Linked DNA regions of Homo sapiens: regions 2 and 3 are each linked to region 1. The links come from fine-mapping of genetic effects on gene expression. A gene starts in region 1. Each other region holds a variant in brackets. All regions are shown on one strand. Distances are between the middles of the regions.

What was found. PIP is the estimated chance that this variant, and not a neighbour inherited with it, causes the effect.
Region 2: its variant is fine-mapped to the expression of BMP7 in spinal cord (GTEx, PIP above 0.99).
Region 3: its variant is fine-mapped to the expression of BMP7 in sigmoid colon (GTEx, PIP 0.94).

What each region holds. Positions count from the first base shown.
Region 1 is chr20:57,261,749-57,272,145 of GRCh38, reverse strand. It overlaps BMP7 (bone morphogenetic protein 7), which reads left to right and starts at 5,505. Exons shown (of 7, transcript NM_001719.3): 1 at 5,505-6,441. The coding sequence starts at 6,024. It overlaps LOC112268270 (translation initiation factor IF-2-like), which reads right to left and starts at 5,706. Exons shown (of 2, transcript NR_171651.1): 1 at 5,504-5,706; 2 at 4,859-5,363. RefSeq lists a cis regulatory region at 5,306-5,398, a promoter at 2,656-6,017 and enhancers at 7,126-7,841, 8,560-9,276.
Region 2 is chr20:57,597,360-57,607,756 of GRCh38, reverse strand. ZBP1 (Z-DNA binding protein 1) reads left to right here. Exons shown (of 8, transcript NM_030776.3): 8 at 2,988-3,905. The coding sequence ends at 3,184. Among named protein-coding and RNA genes, the nearest start is that of ZBP1, 18 kb to the left of the region's middle. The variant T/A (reference allele first, on the strand shown) is at 4,201.
Region 3 is chr20:56,552,586-56,562,982 of GRCh38, reverse strand. It overlaps LOC124904971 (a long non-coding RNA gene), which reads right to left and starts at 9,065. Exons shown (of 2, transcript XR_007067758.1): 1 at 9,025-9,065; 2 at 7,372-8,295. RefSeq lists an enhancer at 8,098-8,147. The variant G/A (reference allele first, on the strand shown) is at 5,538.

The sequences.
Region 1 (10,397 bases):
AAACCCTGTGTTTTGGTGTACCTCAATGTTTAAGGACTTAAGTCCTGGAACAAGATAGCCGGCGTCAGAATTCTGATTTTACCATTCACTCACCATTGGTGTGGCTTTGGGCAGGTTCCCTCAAGTATTTGAGCCTCAATTTCCTCATCTGTAAAATGGGGATAATAATAATAAAAATCATACAAGGTAGTTGGGAGAATTAATGAGTTAATTTTAAAAGACACCTGGAATCATAGATATTGAAGTTTTAATTTGAAGCCCCAATTTGTCAGCTATAACTTCAGAAATCTAGAGCCTCGATCGTCAACATACAGCCTGAAGACGACAGCCTCCGAGCCCCCAGGAGCTAGTTAGAAGTGCAGAATCTCAGCTCACTCAGACTGACTGTGGGAATCTATGTTCTAACAGACCCCCAGGGGATTCACACGCACAGTTGGGTTGGAGAAGTGTTGCTTTAGGTTAAAGCAAGGAAGGAAGGGGCTGCTCCCAGGTCACTGAACGTGCACTGATGCTTAAAGGCCTGGGCTGTGTAGACAGATGTGGCTTTGGATCCTGGCTCCATTACAGATTAGATTGGCTGTCTGACTCTGGACAAGGTGCTCTCGGGATGTTGGTCCTCCTCTGCAATCTGAGGAGCAGAACTAGCCTCTCCATGCAGTGGGGAGTTGCGGGTGATGTGGGCTTGGGCCGTGCAGGCCTAGCAGGTGCCCAGCAGAAGCAAGTGCTCCCAACAGGTGACAGGTCGGCCGCTCCCCTGTCACGTTTTGGAAGGAGGAAAGGGCTACCTCTAGTGCTGAACCGAGGATAGTTAGTGCTCAAAACCATACCAGATTTCCTCCAATCAAGGAAGAAATAACAGCCCTGATAATAATAAACAAAACCACTGCTTCCCCCTAGCTGGCTTCCAGATCCTAGAAATCCTGCATGGTATCAGCTTTCTCTAGAGTGTGTGTGTCGTCTGTATTTTCCATTTGGAACTGTGGCCACTGCCATGTGTACTTAAGACTGATGGAAGACGTTTAATCTCTTATTCTGCTGCTTTTAAAGTTGTGCAAAGAAAATCTCAGAGTGGGCAAGCGTGAGGAGTCCAAGCCTCCCGTGCAATGAGAGATCTGCGTGGGAAACAAAATTTCACCACAGGTGTGCTCTAATAATTTCCTCTGCAGGGTCCACCTCTGCACACAACGATTTTCAAGCCTGTGCAGGAGGCAGCTCTTGGCCCTCTATTCCTTGTTGGGGTTGGAGGTCCAGGTCATCTGGCCTTTGCCAGGTGGTGTGGACAGAGAGAGAGCAGCCCACTGGCTTCCTTGGCTGTGCTCCCCAGGGAGCTTCCAGGCCAGCTGAGCCTCCTCTAGGGCAGATGGATGAAGATGAGGTCCCCACCTCGCTGAACAATGTGTGTGTCAGCAGAATTCTTTTCTTCTTTTTACTGCCTTAGAGAGACATGCTGACTTGGTCAAAATCACTTCAGCAAGATGTGACTGATGATGTAGGAAATGAAAACTCCTGGCCCAGCACTGGGAGGCCAGCAGGCGAGGGGCGCGGACACTGGGACCGGGCCACCCGACACAATAACACCCCTTACAATTCCAGGCCGTCTTTCATCCAGGCAAAGGCGGCCCCAGGTGTGGAGCAGACTGGGGCAGATCAGATTACGGTCCTGGAGCCCAGTGCTGGGTGCCCTGGCCAGGGGAACCACAACTGGGGGTGTGTGGGTTGGGGGCTAGCTGCTGGGGAAATGAGATAGGACCCAGGGAAGTCCCTGGGCCCCAGCTGGCCTGCAGGGGGCCTAGGCACAATGTGAGGATTGGAATGCAGTGATGACCTTTTCATCTCTCATGTTCCCTTCCACTTCACTCTCTCTTTTGCTCTGGTACTTTTGCTCTTGCTCTCAGAGTCAGGATACATCTGCTTTTCTCTGCTTGGCCAAAAAGCAGACCATCATGAAAAGTTTTGTTGTTATTTTGTAACTCAGGAGGCTTTCCTGTTACCATATTTTCCTTTTCATCCAGATGGTAACACAATAACATTTATCAAGGGTTTTCTCTGTGTTCCAGGCACTGTGCAAAGCCCTTTCCATGAATTAAGTTCTGCAACCTCACAGCGATCCCAGAAGACAGGCGCTATCAGTCACCCCATTTTACAGATGGGGGAACTGAGGTGTAGAGAGGTTAAGTCCCTTGCCCATGGTGCACAGCTGGAAGAGACAGAGCTGGAGTGTGAATGCGGCTGGGCAGGCTCCAGTGCCCAGGCTACCTCCTCCACACAAGACTTGCCCTCGGCAATCTCAAAGCCTTTTCTGGTGGTGGGCTCAGCTCCCAAACTGGCATCGGATGCACTCCCAGCCAGATATTTCTTGCTTGCCGGTTTTCATTCATTCATTCATTCATTCATTCATTCATTCATTCGGCATTCACTGAGGGCCTGGTGCAGTCTTGGGGATGCCTCTCGGGGAGGAAACAGGGAAAAGAAAGACCCCCCCACCAAGCATGGATCACAGAAAAGATAAGGCTAAATGGGGGTTTGTGGGACTTCAGAGGAAACCTTATCTCTTGAGGTCTTGGATATGAAGAGCATGTTGTCTCTTCCTCTTGCATGAGAAAAGATGGCGTCTCAGAGGAAGGGTTGCTGGGGTGAGGGATCTGGGAGATGCCTTAGCTTGGCGCCTGCACAGTCAGCCCTCAGTCAACCGGTCTCTTTAGGTTTTGGCTGTGCTTATTACTATTCATTCAACAGGTACTAATTGAGCACCTGCTGTGTGCCAGGCTCAGAATAGGCTCAGGTGAGATGCACAAAGAAGGGTAAACTAGAATCCTTGCTTAGACACTGACGGATCAGTTGTTTCATATGTAAATTGTAGCACCAAGACCTGCTGCCCCTGCCCCCAGCCTCACCTGCTTGTGAAGATCCCTCCAAAAGATTTGAGAGTAGATAAAAAGCAGAGACTACTACTGAAGAACAGGGCTGCTTTGGCTCCTTATTATTTCAGACTTTGGAAGAAAATGACCTCCTTTTTCTCTACTGGCACTGGAGGTGGCATAGCCTGTCCCTAGCAAGCCAGCGCTGGAGGGCGTGTGCAGGGCTGGGGACCGAGCCTGGTTTCTGTTCCCTGCTCTGCAGGGCTCAAGCACTTGCTGTTCCTCCACCTGGGATGCCTTTCCCTGGAAAAGCCTGTCTCTTTCTTGTCTTTCAGGACTCAGGTCAGTGGCATCTCCTCCAAAAACTCCCCTTCCCACCCTCCATCACCTCACCCTGTTTATCTGCGCCCCCGCCCCCACTGCCTGTCACTTATTGCAGGCTGAAGTGACCCAGGCTCTCCAGTTGTACACTCTCAGATGGACCCTGGACGACTGTGGCACTCCTGCAATTTCCCCAGTCTCCCTGGGGTAGGATTCCTGCTTGCCAGGATGCCCACCTTTCCTTCTCCCTCCTGCATGTCCTCCTCTGCCTGGCTTCTGAATTGTTTCCAGAGAGAGTGATAGACAAGATCTGCCTCTCCTTCAGTCCCTGAATCTTATTTAAGGCTCTTGCTTTGCTTCCCTGGCCTGGAGGCCGGCTCCTTGATGGAGTCTGCCATGTGGGTTCGCTCATGGCCATGTCTTCCTGCCCAGCATGGTGCTTGGCCCTGGGACTGGCCACATAATATCTGGGCCAGGTGCAAAATTAGTACGGGGCAGGGGGTACTTTGTTCATAGGTGATTCAGAACCACATATGGTGACCTCAGAGTAGGAAACCAAGTGTGGGGCCCTTAAGAGCTGGGGGGCCCTGTACGACTGTCCAGGTTGCAGGCCCCACAGCTCGCCTCCTGATATCCTGTGCTCCATGCTTGTCTGTTGAAGGAAGGAGTGAATGGATGAAGAGCAGGTGGTGGGGGTGGTTTGAGGGCCTTGCCTGGTGGGTGGGTAGAGGCCCCTCCCTGGCATGGGGCTCAAGACCTGTTCCATCCCACAGCCTGGGGCCTGTGTGTAAATGGCCAGGACCTGCAGGCTGGCATTTTTCTGCTCCTTGCCTGGCCTCTGGCCTCCCCTTTCTCCACCCATGTGGCCCCTCAGGCTGCCATCTAGTCCAAAAGTCCCCAAGGGAGACCCAGAGGGCCACTTGGCCAAACTACTTCTGCTCCAGAAAACTGTAGAAGACCATAATTCTCTTCCCCAGCTCTCCTGCTCCAGGAAGGACAGCCCCAAAGTGAGGCTTAGCCAGAGCCCCTCCCAGACAAGCGCCCCCGCTTCCCCAACCTCAGCCCTTCCCAGTTCATCCCAAAGGCCCTCTGGGGACCCACTCTCTCACCCAGCCCCAGGAGGGGAAGGAGACAGGATGAACTTTTACCCCGCTGCCCTCACTGCCACTCTGGGTGCAGTAATTCCCTTGAGATCCCACACCGGCAGAGGGACCGGTGGGTTCTGAGTGGTCTGGGGACTCCCTGTGACAGCGTGCATGGCTCGGTATTGATTGAGGGATGAATGGATGAGGAGAGACAGGAGAGGAGGCCGATGGGGAGGTCTCAGGCACAGACCCTTGGAGGGGAAGAGGATGTGAAGACCAGCGGCTGGCTCCCCAGGCACTGCCACGAGGAGGGCTGATGGGAAGCCCTAGTGGTGGGGCTGGGGTGTCTGGTCTCAGGCTGAGGGGTGGCTGGAAAGATACAGGGCCCCGAAGAGGAGGAGGTGGGAAGAACCCCCCCAGCTCACACGCAGTTCACTTATTCACTCAACAAATCGTGACTGCGCAGCTACAGTGGCTACCAGGCGCTGGGTTCAAGGCACTGCGGGTACCAGAGGTGCGGAGAAGATCGCTGATCCGGGCCCCAGTGCTCTGGGTGTCTAGCGGGGGTAAGAAGGCAATAAAGAAGGCACGGAGTAACTCAAACAGCAATTCCAGACAGCAAGAGAAACTACAGGAAAGAAAACAAACGTGCGAGGGGCGAGGCGAGGAAACAACCTCAGCTTGGCAGGTCTTGGAGGTCTCTGGGAGGAGAAAGCAGCGTCTGATGGGGGCGGGAGGTGGTGAGTGGGGAGAGGTCCAGGCGGAGGGAATGGCGAGCGCAGAGACAGGCTGGCAACGGCTTCAGGGAGGCGCGGAGGGGTCAGCGTGGCTGGCTTAAAAGGATACAGGGACTGAGGGGCAAGACCGGCTCAAGGGTCACCGCTTCCAGGAAGCCTTCTATTTCCGCGCCACCTCCGCGCTCCCCCAACTTTTCCCACCGCGGTCCGCAGCCCACCCGTCCTGCTCGGGCCGCCTTCCTGGTCCGGACCGCGAGTGCCGAGAGGGCAGGGCCGGCTCCGATTCCTCCAGCCGCATCCCCGCGACGTCCCGCCAGGCTCTAGGCACCCCGTGGGCACTCAGTAAACATTTGTCGAGCGCTCTAGAGGGAATGAATGAACCCACTGGGCACAGCTGGGGGGAGGGCGGGGCCGAGGGCAGGTGGGAGGCCGCCGGCGCGGGAGGGGCCCCTCGAAGCCCGTCCTCCTCCTCCTCCTCCTCCGCCCAGGCCCCAGCGCGTACCACTCTGGCGCTCCCGAGGCGGCCTCTTGTGCGATCCAGGGCGCACAAGGCTGGGAGAGCGCCCCGGGGCCCCTGCTATCCGCGCCGGAGGTTGGAAGAGGGTGGGTTGCCGCCGCCCGAGGGCGAGAGCGCCAGAGGAGCGGGAAGAAGGAGCGCTCGCCCGCCCGCCTGCCTCCTCGCTGCCTCCCCGGCGTTGGCTCTCTGGACTCCTAGGCTTGCTGGCTGCTCCTCCCACCCGCGCCCGCCTCCTCACTCGCCTTTTCGTTCGCCGGGGCTGCTTTCCAAGCCCTGCGGTGCGCCCGGGCGAGTGCGGGGCGAGGGGCCCGGGGCCAGCACCGAGCAGGGGGCGGGGGTCCGGGCAGAGCGCGGCCGGCCGGGGAGGGGCCATGTCTGGCGCGGGCGCAGCGGGGCCCGTCTGCAGCAAGTGACCGAGCGGCGCGGACGGCCGCCTGCCCCCTCTGCCACCTGGGGCGGTGCGGGCCCGGAGCCCGGAGCCCGGGTAGCGCGTAGAGCCGGCGCGATGCACGTGCGCTCACTGCGAGCTGCGGCGCCGCACAGCTTCGTGGCGCTCTGGGCACCCCTGTTCCTGCTGCGCTCCGCCCTGGCCGACTTCAGCCTGGACAACGAGGTGCACTCGAGCTTCATCCACCGGCGCCTCCGCAGCCAGGAGCGGCGGGAGATGCAGCGCGAGATCCTCTCCATTTTGGGCTTGCCCCACCGCCCGCGCCCGCACCTCCAGGGCAAGCACAACTCGGCACCCATGTTCATGCTGGACCTGTACAACGCCATGGCGGTGGAGGAGGGCGGCGGGCCCGGCGGCCAGGGCTTCTCCTACCCCTACAAGGCCGTCTTCAGTACCCAGGGCCCCCCTCTGGCCAGCCTGCAAGATAGCCATTTCCTCACCGACGCCGACATGGTCATGAGCTTCGTCAACCTCGGTGAGTAAGGGCAGGCGAGGGTACGCGTCTCCTTTCGGGGGCACTTTGAGACTGGGAGGGAGGGAGCCGCTTCTTCTATGCAGCCCGCCCAGCTTTCCGCTCCTGGCTGAAATCGCAGTGCCTGCCCGAGGGTCTCCCACCCACAGCCCTATGACTCCCAAGCTGTGTGCGCCCCCAGGTCGGGCGCGCTGGGTTCGGTGAGCCTGTAGGGGTTACTGGGAAGGAGGGATCCTCCGAAGTCCCCTCCATGTTACGCCGCCGGCCGCATCTCTGGGGCTGGAGGCAAGGGCCGTTCAAAGCGCGGGGCTCGGTCATGTGAGCTGTCCCGGGCCGGCGCGGCTCGCGCTACCTGGATGTAAAGGGCCCTTCCCGGCGAGGCTGCCTTGCCGCCCTTCCTGGGCCCCTCTCAGCCCTGCCTGGCTCTGGCATCGCGGCCGTCGCACCCCCTTACCCTCCCTGTCAAGCCCTACCTGTCCCCTCGTGGTGCGCCCGCCTTAGCGTACCGCGCGCTCCGAGCGCCTTGGGGCCCCTCTCCGGGCCGCCGGATGCCCCATTCTCTCTTGGCTGGAGCTGGGGAAGAAACGGTGCCATTGCTAATTTTCTTTGTTTTCTTTCTTTGTTTATTTTTTTCTTTTTTCTTTTTTTTTCTTTTCTTTTCTTTTTTTTTTTTTTTGAGACGGAGTTTCACTCTTGTCGCCCAGTCTGGAGTGCAATGGCGCGATCTCTGCTCACCGCAACCTCTGCCTCCCGGGTTCAAGCGATTCTCGTGCCTCAGCCTCCCGAGTAGCTGGGATTACAGGCATGCGCCACCATGCCTGGCTAATTTTGTATTTTTAGTAGAGACAGGGTTTCTCCATGTTAGGCAGGCTGGTCTCGAACTCCCGATCTCAGGTGATCCTCCCGCCTCAGCCTCCCAAAGTGGTGCTGGGATTACAGGCGTGAGCCACTGTGCCCTGCCGCTAGTCTTCTATTTTAAGTATTTAGTGGTAGGTCCCGGGCCGGCAGAATCTATTTTCAGCATTTACCACGTGTGGCGCGCAAACCACAGGTTTTGGCGATTGGGTTGCGCGGGATCTCAGAGCTGACGCCGCGGGGGCGGCTGGGGGTCCCGGTTTCCGACTGGAGCCGCGACGACCCCGGCGACGCGAGCCTGGGGCTGCAGCGAGGGCCGGGGAGCTCCCCCTCCATATGTGCGCGCACATTCTCCAGACTTGCTCAAACTAACCCCCCGGCAGCGCCAGCGCGCTGCGGGACTGATGATCAAATATTTGGTTTCCGAGATAACACACCCCGATAGCGCTGTTTCCTGAGCCGCTTTCATTCTACTTGTGTAACTTGCTGCGAAAACCCGAACCAAGTCAAGACAGCAAACTCACGCCCACGGGCGCTGTGTCAACATGGAAATAATGATACTGAAGCCCCACGCTGGGCACCTGGGGCGTGGACTGGGGGCGCGGGGGAAGCGCAGATCCGCCTTCATGCTTCCCCCTCCTGATAAGGTCCCTGGAGTTCCCGGGAGGCCATTGTCTGTACTTAATAATAACTAAATCCAACTAGTGAACCAAGCTTCAGCGAGCAAGGGGTGGGAGGTTTAGATGCCAAAATACCTTCAAAAAAGTTTAAATTATACTAAGCAGCCAGTTAAGAAGGAAGCAGCAACATATGACCTGATTTAGAACCATCTCCAAGATGTATGAGGTGGAAAGAAGCAAGGTGCAGATGAGTGGGCTGCATGTGTGCTTGTATATCATCGTGTCCTCCTGGAGGAAGACACCAGGAACTGGAGAGAGATTTTACTGGAGGGGTAGAGAGGCGGGGGCATAGCTGGGGCTTACGGAGTGGGAGGTGGGGTCTGATTTTTCGTCGTCTGCACTTCTGTATTTGTGATTTTTTTAAAACAATGTGTATTTATTAACTATACCAAAAACTAAAGGAAAATTCCAAATACATACATATAAATAATGAACGCAGAGCTCTGTCGCCCTCCTGAAGCCTGGGGTTAGCCAGGGCCCTTTCTCTGGTGGGGGATTTATAGCATCTTCCCTTCTGTTGGGTACCCCGGACTCCCACTGAATGTGCAGGTCCCAGTGGCTGCCTTCAGAGCCTGGCTGGAATCATTAAAAAGGTATTTGTAATCTCTGGCTTCTGCAGAAGGCCCTGCAAACCAAGAGCAAAAAAGCCCCCAGTGCTTATGGGCCGGCAGTGTGGGCTAGGCCCCGGGGCTCCCTGTCCCCAAGAGAAAGACCAGGTTGCTCGGAGGGTGCCTCTGGGAACTTTGGTGCGGGCTATTTGCTCCCCCCATGGCGGCAGGAGCAAGCTGGGACTTGTTTGGGAAGGCCACAGCTGGGTGGTTTTCCTCCTCTGGCTGTACATACACCTTTCAATCCATTTCTTTCATCTTGAAAGGACAAAGACCGGCTTGTCTGAGCCTCTTAATCAGTCAGGCTGGCTTTGGGCTTTGTGGGACCCTGACTTTCTCAGGTCTAGCTTTCTGGGACATCACTCCAAATTAGATGGCAGAGTGGCTTTTAACAGAGCGCACTGACCTTGTTTTCTTTCTCTCTCTGTCCCTAAACTCGAGGTCATTAGTTAGGTGAAGACCTGGGCTGCAGTTTGGCGAGACACTTCCTGTAGATGCTTCTAATGTTGGCCTTTAATTTCTGCTAAGCAGCAGCACACAAATAAATGGCCTGTCCCTTCTATCCTGTTGTAGCTTGGAATTTCTCCATAGGAGGGACTTGGGGGTGGCAGTAGGGTTGGAGAGGGTTGGGGGGAGGTGTAGGAGACTTGTCTGGCCACTGAGTTTGCTGAGAAAGTACTGCTATAGTGTTTTTCCTTGGATTGCAAATCATGTTGATCTGTAGTATTCGAAGTTTTCTAAAGGCAAGTTTATTCTCACAATTTACATAAGAGTGAGAAAATATCACTTGCACATATCAAACTATTACTTCTTATTATGGTGGGAGTTTGGCGGGGGGGGCATGGGTGAGGATCTTGGCAGCCTCTGCTGCCCCTTCGCCCTGCACTGCAGAGCTCTGCTGTCTTGCAGGCAGGCGGCCTGCGTGCGCGGGAGGGGGGACCCTTGCCTGAATTCTGAAGGCTTTTGCAGACCTGGTGCATTTATTCTTCCTTCTGTCTGCCGCCAAACTGGTTTTTGTTCCTATAAGTCGTTCTTGGAATTCAAGTTTTTTGCCAGGCTGAGCGGGATCTAAACTAGAGGGGAAACTAGAGGGGAATTTACGACAAAACCAGGTGGTGGGAATGAGGACTAAAGGCCGCACCTTATGACAAAGCCCAGCCTGTACCATAAAGCCCCAGGCAATGTGAACTGAGCTGCCTGAGTGAGACTCCCATCTTCCCAGCCTGGGCCCCTTAAGTTCAATGGCAAGATTTGTAAACTGGTTTGGATTAACAACCCCGACTCCTCTTTGTAGACTTAATTTTGGAATTCAAAACAGCTACCCTCTCTTAAATAATCCCCAGGCAATGGCGACTCCGCACACTGCATCTAGCCATAGCCCGTTACCATTCTTTCTCTGGGAAGATCCAGCAGCTCTGTTAGGAATCTTGTAAAGTAGCCGGCTGGCACTAGGGGAGTGGAAGTCATCATGTTTATCTCTGGTCCAGGTAATGAAGGCATGAAATTTGTGTAATCTTTGAAGGAAAAGAAGAGAAAGTTGGAAACCTATCATTATTGGAGTCAGCCTATAAAAGTGGCTTTTGTTAATGTAGCTGAAGAGTAGGGAGAAGGCCGTGCAGTTTGATTTTTGCTTTATGCCATCTGGCTGTCCTTTTTGTTGACAAGTGTTTGGCATTAAGACCTCTCCCACTGCCCGTCAAGAGCAGGCCCTACCACTGTAGAGTATTAGAAAAAGATTCTGTTACAGTTTAAAAATTTCCTTCAGGGAGTGCTTCGCAAAGGGGAGCGTGGACTGCAGGCATTTGCAGCTGTAACC
Region 2 (10,397 bases), 340 kb before region 1:
GGTCTTGCCTTGATGTTGATGGCTGCTGACTGATCAGGGTGGTGGTTGCTGAAGGTGGAGGCAGCTGTGGCAATTTCTTAAAATAAGGCAACAATGAAGTTCGCTGCAGCAATGAACTCTTCCTTTCATGAAAGCTTTCTCTGTAGCATGCAATGCTGTTTGATGGCATTTTACTCATACTAGAACTTCTTTCAAAATTGGAACCAAGACTCCCCAACCCTGCTGCTGCTTTACCAACTAGGTTTATATAGCAGTCTAAATCCTTTGTTGTCATTTCAAGAATGTTCGCAGTATCTTCACCAGGAATAGATGCCATCTCAAGAAACCACTTTCTTTGCTCATCCATAAGAAGCAACTCATCTGTTCAAGCTTTCTCATGAGATTGCAGCAATTCAGTCCCATCTTCATATTCCACTTCTAATTTGTGTTTTCCTGCTATTTCCACCACATTTGCAGTTGCTGCCTTCACTGAAGTCTTGAACCCCTCAAAGTCATTCATGAAATTTGGAATCAACTTCTTCCAGACTCCTGTGAATGTTGATAGTTTGACCTCCTCCCATGAATCACAAATGTTCTTAACGGCATGTAGATTGGTGATCTTTTCCAGAAGATTTTCAACTTACTTTGCCCAGATCCATCTGAGGAATCACTCTGTGTTGCACTTATGCCCTCATAAAATATATTTATTGAAGAATAAGAAGTGAATGTTGAAGTTACTCCTTAATCCATGGGCTGCAGAATGGATGCTGTGCTAGCAGGCATGAAAACAATGTTAATTCTTTTTTACATCTCCATCAGAGCCCGTGGATGAACAGGTGCATTGTCAACGAGTAGTAAAAAAAAAATTTTTTTTTGGCCCTCAATCCAGGATGCGGAACACTCAGATCCTGTGGTATGGACGATGAGCAGTGAAATGTTCAAAGGAATATTTTGTTTTCTAAGCAGTAAGTCTCAATGCTAGGCTTAAAATATTCAGTAAACCAAGCTATATACAGGTGCTCTCATCTAGCTTTGTTGCTTCATTCATAGAACATAGGCAGAGTCGATTTAGCATCATTCTTAAGGGCCCTAGAATTTCCAAAATGGTAATTGAGGAGAGGCTTCAGCTGAAAGTCACCAGCTACATTAATCTCCAACAAGAGAGCCTGTCCCCTTTGAAGCTTTGAAGCCAGGCATTGACATCTCCTTTCGAGTTATGAAAGTTCTAGATGACATCTTTTTTCAATAGAAGGCTGTTTCATCTACATTAAGAACCTGCTCTGTTGTGTAGTCACGCTCATCAATGATCTTAGCTAGAGCTTCCGGGTAACCTGCTGCAGCTTCTCCATCAGCACTTGCTGCTTCACCTCACACTTGCATGTTATGGGGACGGTTTCTTTCCTTAAACCTCATGAACCAACCTCTGCTCACTTCCAACTATTCTTCTGCAGCTTCCTCACCTCTCTCAGCCTTTAGAATTGAATAGAGCAAGGGCCTTGCCCTAGACGAGGCTTAGGTTTAAGAGATTGTTGTAGCTGGCTCGATCCTCTATCCAGACCACTAAAACTTTCTCCACACTAGCCACAAGGCTGGTTCACTTTCTCATCACTCATGTGTTTGCTGAAGTAAGACTTTTAATATCCTTCAAGACCCTTTCCTTTGCCTTCACAATTTGGCTAACTTTTGACCTAGCTTTCAACTTGTCTTAGCTTTGGACATGCCTCCCTCACCAAGCTTAATCATTTCTCACTTTTGATTTAAAGTGAGAGACGTGCAACTCTTCCTTTCACTTTAGCACATAGAGGCCGTTTGGGGTTATTTATTTATTTATTTATTTATTTTTGAGATGGAGTTTTGCTCTCGTTGTCTAGGCTGGAGTGCAATGGCACAATCTTGGCTCACTGCAACCTCCACCTCCCAGGTTCAAGGGATTCTTTTGCTTCAGCCTCCTGGGTCGCTGTGATTACAGACCTGCACCACCACGCCTGGCTAACTTTGTATTTTTAGTAGAGATGGGGTTTCTCCATGTAGGTCAGGCTGGTCTTGAACTCCCAACCTCAGGTGATCTGCCCACCTCAGCCTCCCAAAGTGTTGGGATTCTAGGTGTGACCCACGGCGCCCGGCCCATTGTAGGGTTATGAATTTTCCTAATTTCAATATTGTTGTGTCTTCAAGGAATAGGGAGGCCTGAGGAGAGGGAGAGAGAGGAGGAGATGGCTGATCAGTGACAGGTTAGAGCACACAGATTTATTAATTAACTTCGTCATCTTCTACAGGTGATATTTGTGGCACCCCAAAGCAAAGCAATTATAATAGCAACATCAAAGATCACTGGTCACAGATCACCATAACACATATAATCAAAATGAAAAAGTGTGAAATATTGTGAGGATTACCAAAATGTGACGCAGAGACAGGAAGTGAGCATATGCTGCTGGAAAAATTGGCACTGATAGACTCGCTTCACACAGGGTGCCACAAACCTTCAACTTGTGAAAAATGAGTGCAATATCTATGAAGTGTAATAAACCAAAGTACAATAAGGTAAAGTGAGATAAAATGAGGTCTGCCTGTCACTTCCTCCTTGAGTGGCGGGCGGGACCTTATCCTGAGATGTGTAAGGCCTGGAATGGTTTTTGTTTTGTTTTGTTTTGTTTTGTTTTGTTTTGTTTGAGGAAATTGCTAATCAGAGACTGTCAGTGCCAGAGCATGTAGAGCCGTCTTTTGGGGTCCCTGGGAGGACTGGGAGAGCCCTGGGATGGGGGCTTTCTGGTGTTATTTCTGCTCCTCCATCTCACTGCTGTGAAACTAGGACAGGACTGGCTACATGATCTGGGGGCCCAGTGCAAAGTGAAAAGGTGGGGCTCCCTGTTCAAGACTTTGTACAAATCTAAAGACAGTAACAACAAAGGCTCAAGCTGAGCTCGAAATCCTTCCAAGAGCGGGTCCCTGTGGAAATGCCCAGGCCACGTGCCCATGAAGCTGATCCCCCATCTTCTCTTCCCTAGGTCGTCGTCCCGCAGACACACAATCCAGAAGTCACTTTCCTCGAGACATTGGTCAGCCCATCACTCCCAGCCACTCGAAGCTCACCCCCAAGCTGGAAACTATGACTCTTGGAAACAGGAGTCACAAAGCTGCAGAAGGCAGCCACTATGTGGATGAAGCCTCACACGAGGGGAGCTGGTGGGGAGGTGGGATTTAGTGCACAGCCTCACGTGGGGCTTGGACACAGGCTGGGGGTGGGCGCATGCTAGGGAGACTAGCCTGCTGCTCTCTGCATTCCTTAGCGTCTTGTTTGACCTGCTTGCTTCCAGACATAACCTGCATGAATCAGTTTTGGGGGAATGGACCTGGCATGGGGATGGGTTCAGGCCAGGTCTTTTGATGGCCAGGAGTAGATGACAGGGAGTTGCCTTGGGGAACCTTTGGTGTGCCAAGAGGAGGTGGGTAGATGGGAGTGGGGCTCGGTCCCCCAGGCCCAGGGGACTCTCTCCACTCTTTCCTGGGCTCGGGGCATCTGCCTGGAGTTACCTTCCATCATGGCTACCTGCTGTGGTTTGAATGTTTGAGTCCCAACAAAATTCATATCAAAACATAATCCCAACTGGGTGCAGTGGCTCACGCCTGTAATCCCAGCACTTTGGGAGGCCGAGGCGGGCGGATCAATAGGTCAGGAAATCCAGACCGTCCTGGCTAACATGGTGAAACCCCGTCTCTACTAAAAAAAAAAATACAAAAAATTAGCCGGGCGTTGTGGCGGGCACCTGGAGTCCCAGCTACTCCGGAGGCTGAGGGAGGAGAATGGTGTGAACCCGGGAGGTGGAGCTTCCAGTGAGCCGAGATCGCGCCACTGCACTCCAGGCTGGGCGACAGAGCGAGACTCCGTCTCAAAAAAATAAATACATAAATAAAAAATAAACCAACCATAATCCCCAGTGCAGTGGTATGAAGAGATGGGGCCTTTTGGAGGGGATGGAGTCAGGAGGGCGAGTGGGATTGTGGGATTAGCGCTGCCATGAAAGGGCTTGAGGGAGCCTGTTAGTCCCGCTTGCCTGTCCGCCATGTGAGGATGCAGTAACAAAGTGCCATCCTTAAAGCCGAGACCAACCCCTCATCAGACACTGACTCTGCTGGCACCTTGATCTTGGCCTTCCCAGACCCCGAAACTGTAAGCAATAAATTCCTGTTGCTTATAAATTACCCAGGGTGAGGCATTTT[T/A]TTATAGCAGCCTGAGCCAACTGAAACACTGCCCCACTCTCTCCTCACCTGAGGTCTCACTTCCTCAAGGCCCATTGTGGCCACCTGACCTCCTTATCACCCGACCTTTCTAGAATCTTCTCTCCTCAGCCTTGATCTCTCAGGATCTTTTAGCTGGACTCCCAAAGAGAAAATTCTTTCCCACCCCGACCCTGGGTCCCCAGGCCCTGGTGGAAGTCATTGGCTGACCCATGGGTCAGGTGACCTCTTCTGGCCAATCAGCAGGGAGTGCTTGTGGATTAGCCCATTTTCACGCTGCCGATAAAGATATACCCAAGACGGGGTAATTTATAGGCAAAAAGAAGTTTAACGGACTCACACTTCCACGTGGCTGGGGAGGCCTCACAATCACGGTGGAAGGCGAAAGGCACGTCTTACATGGCAGCAGGCAAGAGAGAGAATGAGAGCCAAGGGAAAGTGGCTTCCCTTATGGAGCCATCAGATCTCATAAGACTTACTTCACTACCAGGAGAACAGTATGGGGGAACCATCCCCATGATTCAATTATCTCCTGCTGAGTCTCTCCCACAACACATGGGAATTATGGGAGCTACAATTCAAGATGAGATTTGGGTGGGGACACAGCAAAACCATGTCAGCTTGTTATTTACCAGACCCCACCACCCCGCTAGGGGCTAAGTTCCCGTAGAAGGGCTATGGGCTCTGCAACATTTCTTGAACCATGGGGTGGGGTGGGTAGTGGAGGGATTTGGTGGGGCATGGTGGGAGGAAGATGGAGAGGGATAGAGGGAGGTGGTGATCAGCTGGGCAGGGTGATTGTGGAACAAGGACTGTGTCCGTCCTTCAGTGTGCACATAGGCACACACACATGCACACACAGGTGTACACACACACATGCACACACACAGGCACTCTGCTGCCCCCAACTCCAATGCCACACCCAGTCCTCAGGTGGGCGTTTGTCACACTCCACTCTGTCTCCTTCACTGGCCTTGGCATCTGACACCCAAAAGCTGATGCCCCTGGGGCTAATGTCTACCTTGGCGGGGAGGGGCTGGCTCATCACAGGGCCTCAGTAAAAACAGTTATTGAACAAATTCATATCTCCTTGCCCAACTCGACTGGGAGGATCTTTAGGGTGGATGCTTTGACATATTGGTCAGAACCTAGACTGATATATAGAACTTACAGTTCATCCCTTAAAGGGGATTCGTAAGACATTGTTTGAGCTCCTTGATCCAGTCATTCCTGAAGCAGAACCTATCCTAGCACTTACCCATTAGAAGAACTGAGATGTCCCCTTAGTGCTGAAGCCAGCTCCACTGGGATTTCCATTTCTGAAGGGCAGCTGCCCCCTCACCTCCCCTACCCACTCCCCTTAGCTCACTGCTACTCAACCTGAGGCATGACCTTACCGAGAGATTTCAGAGCTCCCAGGCTAGCTGGATGCCTCCTGTCTGCTTCTGAAGCCTCCTCTGCTCCCCATATCAAACCCACACTTCATTGCCCCAACATTGCCTTGTCATTAGTCTAGCTCTCGTCCATCGAGACTCATTTGGTCGTAGATGATAGAAAGCTGAGACCTGCTTCAGCACAAAAGGGGATGCACTGGATCTTCTAATAGACAAGCCCAGGCATAGAGCCTGCTTCAGGAATGTCTAGATCCAGGAGCTCAGGTGATCTCTTAGAACTCAGCCTCGCTCCACCCCCCTACTGCTTTCCTCTGTTTTCAATGATAGCCCCCAGCAGCTCCAGGCCCCCACACCACTAGCTTAGCTACCCAGTGGAGAGGGATGACTTTCCCGACAGCAAAAGCCACAACAGATGGCTTTATTTGTATGCCCATTCCCCACCAGTCATTGGCCAGAGCAATAGAATGCGGTGATTGGCCAACTGGTATCACATAGCTTATCTCTGGAACCAGGATGGGGAGCAGCCACCCCCAGTCACATGGCCTAAGGGTGATGGATCAGCTGTTTTCTAAATTTACCAGGAAAGGGATGCTGGACAGGCTAGAACCTCAGAAGTCCGCTACACTCCCCAGCTTTGAATGAGGAATTTACTGGACTCAGGGGCCCTGGCTTTCAACTCTTATACCTCCAGGGTCCAATGTATGCTGGACAAGGCCCTTCACTGACCACATCCTGCAGGCTAACTCCTGTGCTGGGCCCTTGGGCTACTGAGAGTGGGAGACAAAGCCCTGTCATTGATAGTGGCTCACAGTGAGTCAGGAGGGGAACGTACACAGGCAGGGAGTTCAGAGCAGGAACCATCACAGGGAATCATGGGAGTGTGGGACAGGGGCCCAGACACAGCCTAGAGGGGTCCAGAAGGCTTCCTGGAGGAGGAGGGAACTCTCAAGAGCACATTTTTCAAGACCAGGCAGAGGGAGGAGGCTGCGTAGGGTGGAAATGGTGCTCTAGGCAGGCCACAGCTGGAGTAAAGCCATGAAGATCAGAACCAGCTGAGTTATTCAGAGAACCACCGTGGTTTGGGTATTGCCGGAGAGCCCAGCACAAAGAAGAGTGGAGGGAGGCTGGCTGCGGAGGCAGGTGGGGACCAGACCATGGCCGCTTGGGAGTTTGGACCAGACACTGCTGTACAAGCCAGCCCACAGGGAGGACTGGGCAGACCTAGGCAACAAGGTCGGTACAGCCATTGGATTGACTCTGGGGGATAGGGTGTCTTGTCCCATGGACTGGAGCTGCTCAGCCATACTGTAGGCAAAGTTATCTCAACCACCATGCTGATCTGGGATCCCCAGAGTATTTTCTCATAGAGTACCCAGTTTGCAAACATGAGTCACTAGGCAGGAGGGGATGAGAATGGGGTTTGTCTATCTTTCTGGGCGTGTCTTCCTGCTGCATGGAGCTGCAAATCAGTTGCTTGCCTCCAAGTTTGGCCAAACTTTGTGGATAACCAGGCCCCCTGTCAATGAGGAATCAAAATGCAGCTTCCACCCCCAGGCTGAATCAGAATACTCATTTTCCCAGCAAGATTTTCCCTGTGTAATTAATTTGTCATAAATACGCTGACAAAGCATTGCTAGCAGTTAATGGGGGCCAGAGGTGAAGGTCAATGTTAGTCTCCTTGGGAAGGAAATTAACTAGATACCATTAAAAGCAGAGAATGATTAAGTCCATCCACCCCTCAGCCCGCGCTGTGTCTAGCCCGCCCACCCACCCCTCCCTTCTGCCATGGTGTGTGCAAACGGAGCTTGTAGCCCCCAGAACTCGATGCAGGGAGGAGGAATTTGCTCCAGGAGTTGGAAATGATTTTCTGAAACCACCAACCTGCTCACAGATGCAATTTTATGTTCTCATTCCAGCTGCTCTCCTCCTCTCTGGGTGACCCCAGACAGGACTCCTCACTTGTGAGATTTTACCAGGCAACCAAAATTGGATGCTTAGAGCAGGAAGAAGAGTCTACAGAGGGACTCACGGGCATTTTGGCTTTGAATGGCCGAAGCCTAGCTCCCCAGGCTCAGGCACAATGGTGAATGTATTTGCTCATGCAACTGGGGAATCAAGGGACACTCATGTTCAGGAATGGTTGGATCCAGAGGCTCAAGCCTTCCTTTCAGGCTTCTTTCTCTCCAGCTCTCTGCTCTCTGATGAGTCTCTCTCCACAGGGCCCCAGCCACCGAAGGCTCAAAAAAAAAAAAAAAAACAAAACAAAACCCTGCATGGGGAGTTGTGAGAATCTGAAGCCTGATACTGCACAGAAAACCTATGAAGCCACTGGGTCTGGCCTGGAATGGAAGGCTGAGTGAATGTGGGAAAAAATTTTCAAGTGGGAAAAATGAAACCAATAAGATTTTTAAAAATACAGTCGGTTATGTATGTGTGGGTTCTGAGGATCGAAAATATCTGAAAAACAAGATGACTGCATCTGTACTAAACACGTGTGGACTTTTTTGTCATTATTCCCTAAATGATACAGTATAACAACTATTTACATAGCATTCACATTGTTTTAGGTATTATAAGTAATCTAGAGATGATTTAAAGTATACAGGAGGATGTGCATAGGTTATATGCAAATACTATATCATCTCATATCAGGGACTTGAGTATCCATGGATTTTGTACCCACAGGGAGTCCTGGAGCCAATCCCCTGGGGATACTGGGGGACGACTGTATGTTTAGGCATCTGTTCAATATTGTAGGTGGGATGTTGCAGATCTATTTGTACTTTTGAATCAAAACAAAAAGCAGGTTTTTTTGTTGTTTTTTTTTTAGCGTGCTTATTGACTCACAAACTAGCAGTGTTCAGGTAAGGCCTCATCCAGCAGCTCAAACAATGTGGTTCAGGACCCACTGTCCCTCCATCTCTCTTCATGGCTTCCCACAGACTCAGCTTTTTCAGGCTCCACACGGAGACTTTCCAGCCACTAAGAGTTCTGCCCTGCTGGGGACAAAATGGCTGCAGTGGTTCCAGACCTCACATTCCCACAGGGGACAAAAGCAATTTCTAAACCACCCCAGTATTTGCCACCTCCAATTGGGCATGGGGATGAGAGTCATTAGCTGTAGCCAATCCAGGCTCACCCCTGAATTTGGGGGTGCTTAGAATGGTGTGGACCTTCTGTGACAAGGGCATTTTCTAAGCATTCTTTAATCCTCCCCTTAAGTACATGAGGAGACTGGGGCCAAGGGAGGGTAAGTGGCTTGCCCAAAGCCACATGGCTGACAAGTGAGACCCATGTTCAAAATTCCAGATTGAAAACCAGATTTTTCCAGTCCTGGTGGTCAACCCATCACGGAGGATTTAACACTCCCATCTGCCAGGCTGCTAGCTCCCACGGATGACAGCAGACTGGCACCCACCCACGGGCAGCCACATCACCTCAGATGGGGAGGGGCCAGCAGGACCAGGATTTTGCATTCCATGAAAACCCTCTTCTGCAAGAGCTCCTGTGAAACAAGGGTTCCTTGGACAGTTGTGGATACGCAGCATGATGCAGCCCCCGCTGCATGATTCCAAGGCAGCCCATTCAGGGAGGTGAAACTACTGCTCAAGGACAGAGATAGGATTCAAACCCACTCAGGGAGGTGAAACTACTGCCCAAGGACAGAGATAGGATTCAAACCCAGCCATCAGGCAGGCTTGCAAGCCAGTGCTCTTAAACATGTTACTGAAAAAGCTGCCTGGGACATATCACCGCGGCCTGGCTGTCACCTCCCAGCCCCTGGCTGGTCAGCTCCCCCACTGTGTCTCATTGACCTGCCCCCCACGCCCACCCCGGGGCACAGTGGCCTTTGCCACAATCAGCTGAATGCCCCCAGCTGCTGGAGAAGCAATCCAGCAGGGCCAGTGCCGGCAAAGCCCTGAAGGCGGGAGTGTCAGCTGGGGGGCCGGGGGTGGGGAAAGGGGGGAGGGGGTCTGGCGCCCCTGGCTACAGAGCTCGAGACAGGCCTGGCCCTCCCAGCTCCACCTGCAGGTCAGGGGTGTGGGGGGTGAACTGCGTGGCTGGGAGATCCTGGAGGTGAATCTTTGATCCCCCCATTTGTGTGACTCCTCTCTGCCCCCAGCATCTGGCTTACCGGCTCTGAACCTCTGTCTTTCCCTCTCACCTCCTCCTTCCTCTTAGATGGACCCCTGTGATGACATCGAGGCCACCCTGATAATGCAGGATGACCCCCCACCTCACTATCTTTAACTTAATCACCTCTGCAAAGTCTGTTTCTCCATGTAAGGTAACATGTTCCAGGTTCTGGGATTAGAACACGGGCATCGTCCTGGGGAGCCTCACACAGCCCGCACTGCTGAGCATGCTTCAATGTGCAGGCTACCCCATGCCCTTCAACGCTCAGCGCACCCCATGCCCCTAACACAGACATCTAGCCCAGAGTGCCAGCAAGGCCCAGACTGAGAAGGTCCGTTACAGGCGCTGCTGCTGCTGTTAATATCACGAATATAAAAGAATAAATGGGGAAAAAAATAATGGGGCTTGGCGTCACAGCCCCTGGTGTGTGTAATCCCAGGCAAGTGAGTGTAATCTCAGGCAAGTCCTGCCACCTCTGAGCCTCAGTTTCCTACTCTGTTAAATGGGCAGAAATAGGGACAGACCCTGCCTGGTGGGAGCTCACGCTAAGAATGAAGGGAGCCCTTGCCCAGTGGTGCCCAGACCTGGGGGCTGAAGCCTAGGCCCTCCCGGGGATTGATTGACAGCCGTCTGTACAGGTGGGGCTAG
Region 3 (10,397 bases), 710 kb after region 1:
TTTTTGAGACAGAGTCCTGCTCTGTCGCTCAGGCTGGAGTGCAACGGTGCAGCTTGGCTCACTGCAACCTCCGCCTGCCAGGTTCAAGTGATTCTCTTGCCTCAGCCTCCCAAGTAGCTGGGGCTACAGGAGCGTGCCACCACACCAGCTAATTTTTGTATTTTTAGAAGAGACGGGGTTTCACCATGTTGGCCAGGCTGGTCTCAAACCCCTGACCTCGTGATCCGCTGGCCTCAGCCTCCCAAAATGCTGGGATTACAGGGCAGAGCCACCGCACCCGGCCCACTCATTGTTTTTCAAAACTGAGATTATATTAAGCATTCTTTCTTACATCTTGCTTTCCTTAGTTAACACTACCTTGTGGAAAGCTGTCATGGCCAGCTGATAGATAGCCCTAGGTTATTTTTCCTATCCTGCAAAATATTCTAAGATGCAACATTCAATCATTTCTCTATTTATAGGACTGTGTGCTTAGAAAACTCAAAACATACTAGTTATTTTTTCAAAACACTGGAATAAATAAGAAAGTTTGGTTAGATGGCTAGTCTCAGGATAAATATACATCAAACAAGGCTGGGCGTGGTGGCTCACTTCTGTAATGCCAGCACTTTGGGAGGCGGAGGTGGGTGGATCGCCTGAGGTCAGGAATTCCAGACCAGCCTGGCCAACATAGCAAAACCCCATCTCTACGAAAAATACAAAAATTAGACAGGCCTGGTGGTGGGTACCTGTAATCCCAGCTACTAGTGAGGCTGAAGCAGGAGAATCACTTGAACCCAGGAGGCGGAGGTTGCAGTGAGCCCAGAACAAGCCACTGCCCTCCAGCCTGGGCGATAGAGCAAGACTCCATCTTAAAAAAAAACAAAAAACAAACAAAAAAAACCACACAATAGTTTTCTCACACTGTAGCAATAAACACCTAGAAATTTAAATAAGAAACATTTTCATTCAGCATGCAGACAAAAACTATGAAACACTTAGAAATAAATTTGGCTGGGCGCAATGGCTCATGCCTGTAATCCTAGCACTTTGGGAGGCGGAGTGGGTGAATCACCTGAGGTCAGGAGTTCGAGATCAGCCTGGCCAACATGGCAAAACCCCATCTCTACTAAAAATACAAAAATTAGCCAGGCATGGTGGCGGGTGCCTATAATCCCAGCTACTTGGAGGCTGAGGCAGGAGAATCGCTTGAACCCGGGGGGGCAGATGTTGCAGTGAGCTGAGATGGCGCCACTACCCTCCAGTCTGGGTGACAGAGCAAGACGCCATCTCAAAAAAAAAAAAAGAAAAAAAAAGAAAAAGAAAAAGAAAAAGAAAAAGTTGCCGGGCATGGTGGCTCACGCATGTAATCCCAGCACTTTGGAAGGCTGAGGCGTGCAGTTCACCTGAGGTCAGGAGTTTGAGACCAGCCTGACCAACATGGTGAAACCCCGTCTCTGCTAAAAATACAAAAATTAGCCAGGCATGGTGGCGGGCACCTGTAATCCCAGCTACATGGGAGGCTGAGGCAGGAGAATGGCATGAACCCAGGAGGCAGAGGTTGTAGTGAGCTGAGATCGTGCCACTGCACTCCAGCCTGGGCGACAGAGCGAGACTCTGTCTCAAAAAAAAAAAAAAAAAAAAAACACAAAAGTCAAAATCCCCCAATTATGATATAAATTGAATACAATTCCAATTAAAATTTCAGTAAGATTTTTTTCTTGGAGAGGTTGTGTTAGGCATTGAATAGTTTCCCCCAAAAAACCTATGTTGAAGTCCTAACCCCAGTACCTGTGAGTGTGACCTTACTTCTTTGAAGATATAATTAAGATATCATTTAAGATGAGGTTATACTGGATGAGAGTGGACCCATAATCTAATATGACCGGTATCCTTAGAAGAAAAGGACTGCAGCACTATTCGCAATAGCAAAGACATGGAATCAACCTCAATGCCCATCAGTGATAGACTGGATAAAGAAAATGTGCTACATATAGACCATGGAATACCATGCAGCCATAAAAAGGAATGATATCATGTCCTTTGCAGGGACATGGATGGAGCTAGAAGTCATTATCCTTAGCAAACTAATGCAGGAACAGAAAACCAAATACTGCATATTCTCACAAATGGGAGCTAAATGATGAGAACACATGGACACATAGAGGGGAACAACACACATTGGGGTCTGGCCAAGGGTGGAGGGTGGGAGGAAGGAGACGATCAGAAAAAATAACTAGGCTGGCCACGGTGGCTCATGCCTGTAATCCCAGCTACTCGGGAGGCTGAGACAGGAGAATCACTTGAACCCGGGAGGCGGAGGTTGCAGTGATCCGAGATGGCACCATTGCACTCCAGCCTGGGCAACAAGAGTGAAACTCTGTCTCAAAAAAAAAAAAAAAACAAAAAAGAAAAAATAACTAATGGATACTAGCTTAATACCTGGGTGATGAAATTAATAATCTGTAAAACAAACCCCCGTGACACAAGTTTACCTGTATAACAAAGCTGCACATGTACCCCTGAACTTAAAATAAATGTTTTTGTTTTGTTTTGTTTTTTTAAAAAAAGAGGAGGGCCCGGCCCAGTGGCTCACACCTGTAATCTCAGCACTGTGGGAGGCTGAGACAAGTAGATCACTTGAACTCAGGTATTCGAGACTAGCCTAGGCAACATGGTAAACTGCTCTCTCTACTAAAAATACAAAACATTAGCCGGGCTTGGTGGCATGAGCCTGAAGTCCCAGCTTCTTGGGAGGCTGACGTAGGAGGATCACTTGAGCCTGGGGAGGAGGAGGTTGCAGTGAGCTGAGACTGTGCCACTGCACTCCAGCCTGGGCCACAGAATGAGACCCTGTCTCAAAAATAAAAAAAGAAGAGGCACAGTGAGGAGAGAGCCATGTGACCCCAGGGCAGGTGCTGGAGTGATGAGCCTACACCCAAAAAGTGCCAAGAGCTGCCAGCAACACCAGCAGCGAAGAGAAAGGCAGAGAAACATTCTCCCCAAGAGCCTGTGGAGGGAGAACATGGCCCTGCTAATCGTTTGATTTGAGACTTCTGGCCTCCAGAACCGTGAGAGGATACATGTCTGTTGTTGTTGGGGTTTTTTGTTTTGTTTTTTTGAGATAGAGTCTCGCTCTCACTGCAACCTCCGCCTCACAGGTTCAAGCGGTTCTCCTGCCTCAGCATTCCGAGTAGCTGGAATGGCAGCCGTGCGCCACCACCATGCCCGGCTAATTTTTTTTGTATTTTTAGCAGAGACAGGGTTTCACCGTTTTGGCCAGGCTGGTCTTGAACTCCTGACCTCAGATGATCTGCCCACCTCAGCCTCCCAAAGTGCTGGGATTACAGGCGTGAGCCACTGCGCCTGGCTACGTGTCTGTTGTTTCAAGCCACCCAGTTTGTGGTACTTTAGGGTTACAGCAGCTGTAGGAATCTAGTAGAGGATAGAATTAAATAACTGTTGAATGAATGAAGTTAAATTCCTGATTTCATTGGGCAGATATAAATTTTCCTTGCCAGAAAAGAGGATACAGTTGGCAAATCTTCCCCAAACCACAAAAAATAAAAATAAAATTAAAAAAACCTGATCAGAGGGGATTATCAGCATTCTGACCTGGGCTTGGAGTGGGATCCTCACTTCTTCCACAGGATAACTGTAAAAACTGCCGCAAGATTTGCATCTTGGTGGGACCAGCAAGTTTCAGGAATTCATTCCCAGAAACAGTGGCTCCTCCTGCCCCGACTTCCTCAGCCACCGCCAACACACCCATTTCCACCTTGTGTTCCAACACCTCCCTTTTATGTGAACGATTCAGAGAAAGATAAAGTTGATTATGTGATTCTCAAAGCAGAGGGAGCTGTGGCCAAGAAGAATGCAGTGTCTCACGGCCACACCAAAGGATTTTTCCTACCTGGAAATTACGAGGTCTTTCTTCTTCCTGAACTTACCTTGCCCTTGTTTCCCAGAGGCCTAAATCAAGGGAGCAGGTGTGTTTCCAATCACTCATTCACCAGCTGTGAGCAGGGCATACAACCAGTGGTAAGTCAGACAAAACTTAGTGCCTGCATTGAGCATCCAGTGCACCGAAGAGTCCAGTGCACTGAAGAGGGACACAGATTTTCTGTAAATAAACAAGATAATATCCTAATGTGATCAATGTGGAGAAAGTCAGGTGGTGTGATTAAGAATGAGTAGGGGCGGCTGGGCGCGGTGGCTCATGCCTGTAATCCCAGCACTTTGGGAGGCCAAGGTGGGTGGATCACCTGAGGTCAGGATTTCGAGACCAACCTGGCCAACATGGTGAAACGCCATCTCTACTAAAAATACAAAAATTAGCTGGGCGTGGTGGCAGGCGCCTGTAATCCCAGGTACTCGGGAGGCTGAGGCAGGGAGAATTGCTTGAACTCAGGAGGTGGAGGTTGCAGTGAGCCAAGATTGTGCCACTGCACTCCAGCCTGGGTGACACAGCAAGACTCCATCTTAAAAAAAAAAAAGAATGAGTAGGGGCCAGGCATGGTGGCTCACGCCTGTAATCCCAGCATGTTGGGATTTTGTGAGACCTTGCCTTTACAAAAAACAGAAAAAATTAGCTGGGGGTGATGGTTCAGCCCTGTGGTCCAAGCTGCTCGGGAGGCTGAGATGGCAGGAGCACTTGAGCCTAGGAGGTTGAGGCTGCAGTGAGCTGTGAACACACCACTGCACTCCAGCCTGGGCAACACAACGAGACTCTGTCTCCAAATAAACATGCTCATCACCTTAAAAAGAACCTCAAGGCCATTAGCCCTTCCTCTCCTAAGCTCTTGGTAATCACCATTCTACTTGTCAGCTCTATGGATTTGCCTCTTCTGGACATTTCACACACAGGGAATCATATAATATGTGGCTTTTGTGTCTGTTGCAGGTACCAGTACTTCATTTTTTTTTTGAGACGGAGTCTCACTGTCGCCCAGGTTGGAGTGCAGTGGCACAATCCCGGCTCACTGCAACCTCCGCCTCCTGGGTTCAAGCGATTCTCCTGCCTCAGCCTCCGGAGTAGCTGGGATTACAGGCGTGTGCCACCACGCCCAGCTAATTTTGTGTATTTAGTAGAGACGGGGTTTCACCATGTTAGCCAGGCTGAGCTCGAACTCCCGACCTCAGGTAATCCACCCACCTCCCACTCCCAAAGTGCTGGGATTACAGGCGTGAGCCACCGCGCCTCGCCCTCCCACTCATTCTTTTCTTTTCTTTTTTTTCTTTTTTTTTTTTTTAGACAGGGTCTTGCTCTGTCACCCAGGCTGGAATGCAGTGGTAGATCACAGCTCACTGCAGCCTCCATCTCCTGGGCTTAAATGATCTTCCCGCCTTAGCCTCCTGAGTAGCTGGGACTCCAAGAGGGCACCATCACACTCGGCTAATTTTTTTTTTAAATAGAGACAGGCTTTCACCATGTTGCCAGGCTGGTCTCGAGCTCCTGAGCTCAAGCAATCGTCTTGCCTCGGCTTCTCAAAGTGCTGGGATTACAGGCGTAAGCCACCGCACCTGGCCCACACAGTGCTTGAATAATTATTCTGGCA[G/A]TGTCTCACACGTCCAAAGAAGTATGGAGTTCTAGGGAAAGTTCATGTTTGGCAAATGAATGACTGGTTGCTGAATGAAGACTAATGTTGGATTTCTAAATACTGGCAAGCTTTGCACTCTGAGGGAATTTTTGCCTTTCTTTTTTTGAGATGGAGTCTTGCTCTGTCACCAGGCTGGAGTGCAGTGGCAAAATCTTGGCTCACTGCAACCTCTGCCTCCCGAGCTCAAACCATCTTTCCACATCAGCCTCTTGAGTAGCTGGGACCACAGGTGCACACCAAAACATCTGGCTAAGTTTTGTATTTTTTGTAGAGACAGGGTCTCACTTATGTTGCCCAGGCTAGTCTCGAACTCCTGGACTGAAGCCATCCACCCACCTCAGCCTCCCAAAGTGCTGGGATTACAGGCATGAGCCACCATGCCTGGCCTGAATTTTTGTCTTATAAGAGATGATCTTGCACCATCAAAAAAGGTTAAAGGATGTTCAGTCTATTCTGTCAAAAAGGCAGGAGAATACATAGCACGGTTCATAAGACTAAAATTTTAAAATTCTTTATCGAAGGGATTTTGTTTCCTTGGGTGTCCACAGCACCTTTTTTGGTGTGATAATGAAGGATTGTTCCTAAGCACCTGGTACTTGCCAGGCTCCATGCTAAGGGTTTCAAGAGTAAATACTTCACTGAATCCTCTCAATGATCCTGCTCTATTCGAAAAGCACTTTGCGATGAGATTCAGAGAGGTTAAGGGACCTACTTAAGGTAACACAGCTGGTAAGAAGCAGCTGTGGTTTAGGAAGGCAGGACTTCCAGCTTCCAGCTTCTATGCCTTCTCCACTGCCTCACACTGTCACACTCAATGGCTGACTCCTCATCTATGCGTTGACAAAGCCCTGGTGCCTCCAGAAAGCTGGCCTGGAGTGGAGAGTTAAGTGTCTGGGAGCCTTCCCTCCTGAATGCGACATTTCTCTCCACGTTGCATGGAATGGCACCAAAACTTTTTTTTCTTTAAGACGGAGTCTACTCTGTCTGACACAGTGGTTCACGCCTGTAATCCCAGCACTTTGGGAGGCCAAGACAGGCGAATCACGTTAGGCCAGGAGTTCAAGACCAGCTTGGCCAACATGGTGAAACCGCTTCTCTACTAAAACTACAAAAATTAGCCAGGCATGGTGGCGCATGCCTGTAGTTCCAGCTACTCGGGAGGCTGAGGCAGGAGGATTGCTTGAGCCCAGGAGGTGGAGGTTGCAGTAAACTGAGATCATGCCACTGCACTCCAGCCTGGGTGACAGAGCAAGACTCAGTCTCAAAAAACAAAAAACAAAACAAAAAAAACAAAGATGATCAGGTCCCTGATATAAAATTGTGTAGTATTTGCGCATAACTTACACATATCCTCCTGTGTACTTTAAATGATCTCTAGATTACTTATAAATGTAAATGCTATGTAAGTAATTGTAGTTTAAATAGTTTAAAACAATATGCTACATTGTTTTAAGATTTTTATTATTTTTTATTGCTGTACTGGCTTTTTCTTTCTTTTTTTTTTTTTAGAGACAGAAGGCTCTGTCTCCTAGGCTGGAGTGCAATGGTGCGATCTCGGCTCACTGCAACCTCTGCCTCCGGGGTTCCAGCGATTCTCCTGCCTCAGCCTCCCAAGTAGCTGGGATTACAGGCACCCGCCACCATGCCCAGCTAATTTTTGTATTTTTAGGAGAGACAGGGTTTCACTATGTATTGGCCAGGATGGTCTTGAACTCCTGACCTCAAGTGATCCCCCCGCCTCGGCCTCCCAAAGTGCTATGATTACAGGCATGAGGCACCGCACTCGGCCGTATTGGGTTTTAAAAATATTTTTTATTTGAGGTTGGTTGAAGTCGAAGGCCTGAAACCCATGGATACGGAGGGCCAACTGAATCTGTTGTTTAAGCCACCTGGTGACCTGAAATGATATTTTGTTACAGCAACCTGAACAGACTAACACAACCTTTGTTAGATGATGATTTGAGAATATTTTCTTCCATTCCCTCAGTTGTTTTTTCACTTTCTTTCCATTTCCTTTGAAGCACAAAAGTTTTTCATTTTGATGAAGTCCAATATCTATTTTTTCCTTTTTGATTTCTTGTGCTTTTTGTTGCATTGCTTTGGAATAAGAAAAAAACAGGGGGGGAACATTTTATGAAAAAAAAACAGGCCCAGACATACTGCAGCCTATTCATGCAGTGACATTCCTGTCCACGGGGAGCTAACACTCAGTCAGCATTCCCATGGGGTTGACTCCTCCATTCGTCTTCCTCTCTGGCCTTTTTCCAGGTTGCAGGAGAAGTCTTTCATGTTCTGATGAGCCAGATGGCACAACAAACAGCTTTGAATTTAAGTGGGATGAGTCATCACTTAAATGTACTTAGAAATTCTAAAATTAGTCCAGTGTAAGCCATTTCTGCTTTCTGTTTTCAGTTTCTCTGACTGGATGTGCCAACAGTGTTTGCTGACTGTAGAGTAAACCCCAACACTGGCAGATGGTGGTTGTGCTGCTTGAAGTGGAGATGGGCAAACCCTGCCCGATCTAGAAAAACGTGTACCATGTGTGTTTTTAATAGCAAAACATCGGGGAAACCTAGACATCCACCAGTAGGGAACTGGTTAAATTATGATACATGTAAACCAGAATAATAACAGCCAAATATATTGAGGGTAGAGAGTTGAATATGTTAAGCAGGAAAAACTTTTCCTCTACCATCTTCAGTTCGGTACCTGGGATCTGCAAATTAAAGTAACAAAAGACAGATTAACAGGAGAAAAAGCATATAATTTTTGTTAATATTTACATGCATGAGAATTTATAGAAAAGAAGTAAAACTCAAAGAAATGGTTAGATTCAGGCTTATATAACTTTTATTTTTGACACAGAGTCTTGCTCTGTTGCCCAGGCTACAGTGCAGTGGTGTGATCTCAGCTCACTGCAACCTCTGCCTCCCATGCTCAAGCCATTCTCCTGCCTCAGCCTCCGGAGTAGCTGGGACTACAGGCACCGCCAACACGCCCGGCTAATTTTTGTATTTTTAGTAGAGATAGGGTTTCACCATGTTGGCCAGGCTGGTCTCAAACTCCTGACCTCAGATGATCCCCCTTGGGCTCCCAAAGTGCTGGGATTACAGGCGTGAACCACTGTGCCTGACCTTATATAGCATTTTAACAAAGGAAATAAGGTTTGGGTTTCAAGCAATGATAAACTGTAGGAAAGTGACCAGGAAATGGGAGAACTAATGGAAGATAAGGGCTAATATAGTAAGGTTGGCTTATGCAAATTAATATCTTAGTTTATGTATTGAGTGGCCAGGTGCAGTGGCTTATGCCTGTAATCCTAGCAGTTTGGGAGGCCAAGGCAGGAGGATTGCTTGAGTTCAGGAGTTTGAGACCAGCCTATGCAACAAAGTGAGACCCGTCTCTACAAAAAATTTAAAAATTAGCCCAGCGTGGTGGTATGCACCTGTAGTCCCAGCTACTCAGGGGGCTGAAGTTGGAGGATCGCTTGAGCCCAGGAGATCAAGGCTGCAGTGAGCCAAGACCACATCATTGTACCCCAGCCTGGGTGAGAGATCGAGACCCTGTCTCAAAAACAAAAACAAAAAAATTTGGTTAATGTTTCAAGGTCACATTGTGAAATTATTAGTTATATTTGTTGTATTAGTTATGTAATATATAAAACTAATATATAATATTATATAATAAATGAGTTATGATAATAACTCATGTTTATATTTTTGTATTATTATAATAACTCATTTGTTAAGCATTTACTGTGAGCCAGGCATTGCCTAGGCTTGGCAGTGGAGACCCGATGGTGGTGGGTTGTGCCCTCCCGAAGCTTCTCCTTTAATGCTGTGAGTCAGAAACCCAGTCGCAATGGTAATGAATGTGTAATTAAGGGCAGCGTGTACCCTTGGTAGGCAGGAGCGGGGCTCAGGACCTTTGTACTTTCTGTGCATGCTCTGTTCCAAAGTGTCCTCTTAAAGGTCTTCCCTGACCATGAAGCCCAGGAGCCCCTCCTCCTGGTGCATCCTTCTTTCTAGGCTGATCTTCTCCTGACATGCTATTGTATATTCCCGTGTCATTGCTGTTGTCTGCTCCCCGTTGTCTAACAGCCTCTAAGAGGCTGACAACTCATAGGATTCTATTACCTCTGCATGCTCAGTGCTGAGAGCCTGCTTGGCTCATGGGAGTCAGTTAATATTTAGAGAACAAATGGATGTCTGGCAAGGTAGGTGGGCTGAGACCAGGCTGAATGGGCAGGGTGGGGAACCCAAAGTTGTGCCCACTGTCCAAGTCACACAGTTTCTGTTCCCTTTTTTTCTTTTCTTTTTTATTTTTGAGATAAAGTCTCACTCTGTCACCCAGGCCAGAGGGCAGTGGCGTGATCTAAGTTCACTGCAACCTCCACCTCCCTGATTCAAGTGATTCTCCTGCCTCAGCCTCCTGAGTGGTTAGGATTGCAGGTGCCTGCCACCACACCTGGCTAGTTTTTGTATTTTTAGTAGAGATGGGGTTTCACCATGTTGGCCAGGCTGGTCTTAAACTTCTGACCTCAGGTTATCTGCCCACCTCCGCCTCCCAAAGTGCTGGGATTACAGACATGAGCCACTGCGCCCAGCCTACAGAACTGTTAAGTAGCTCAAACATGATCAGAGCCTGAGGACCCCCTGAAGGGCACCCTGCACAGGCTAGTTTTCTGCCAATGGCCTCCACAGACCTTCTGGTCCATTTCAGAGTGGTACACAGCCCTACCTGACTGCACGTGTGCCCTTTCTGGGAAGGAAGGCTTGTTGCCCGCCACTCCCAGATTGTCAGAGCCCGCTGGGTCCA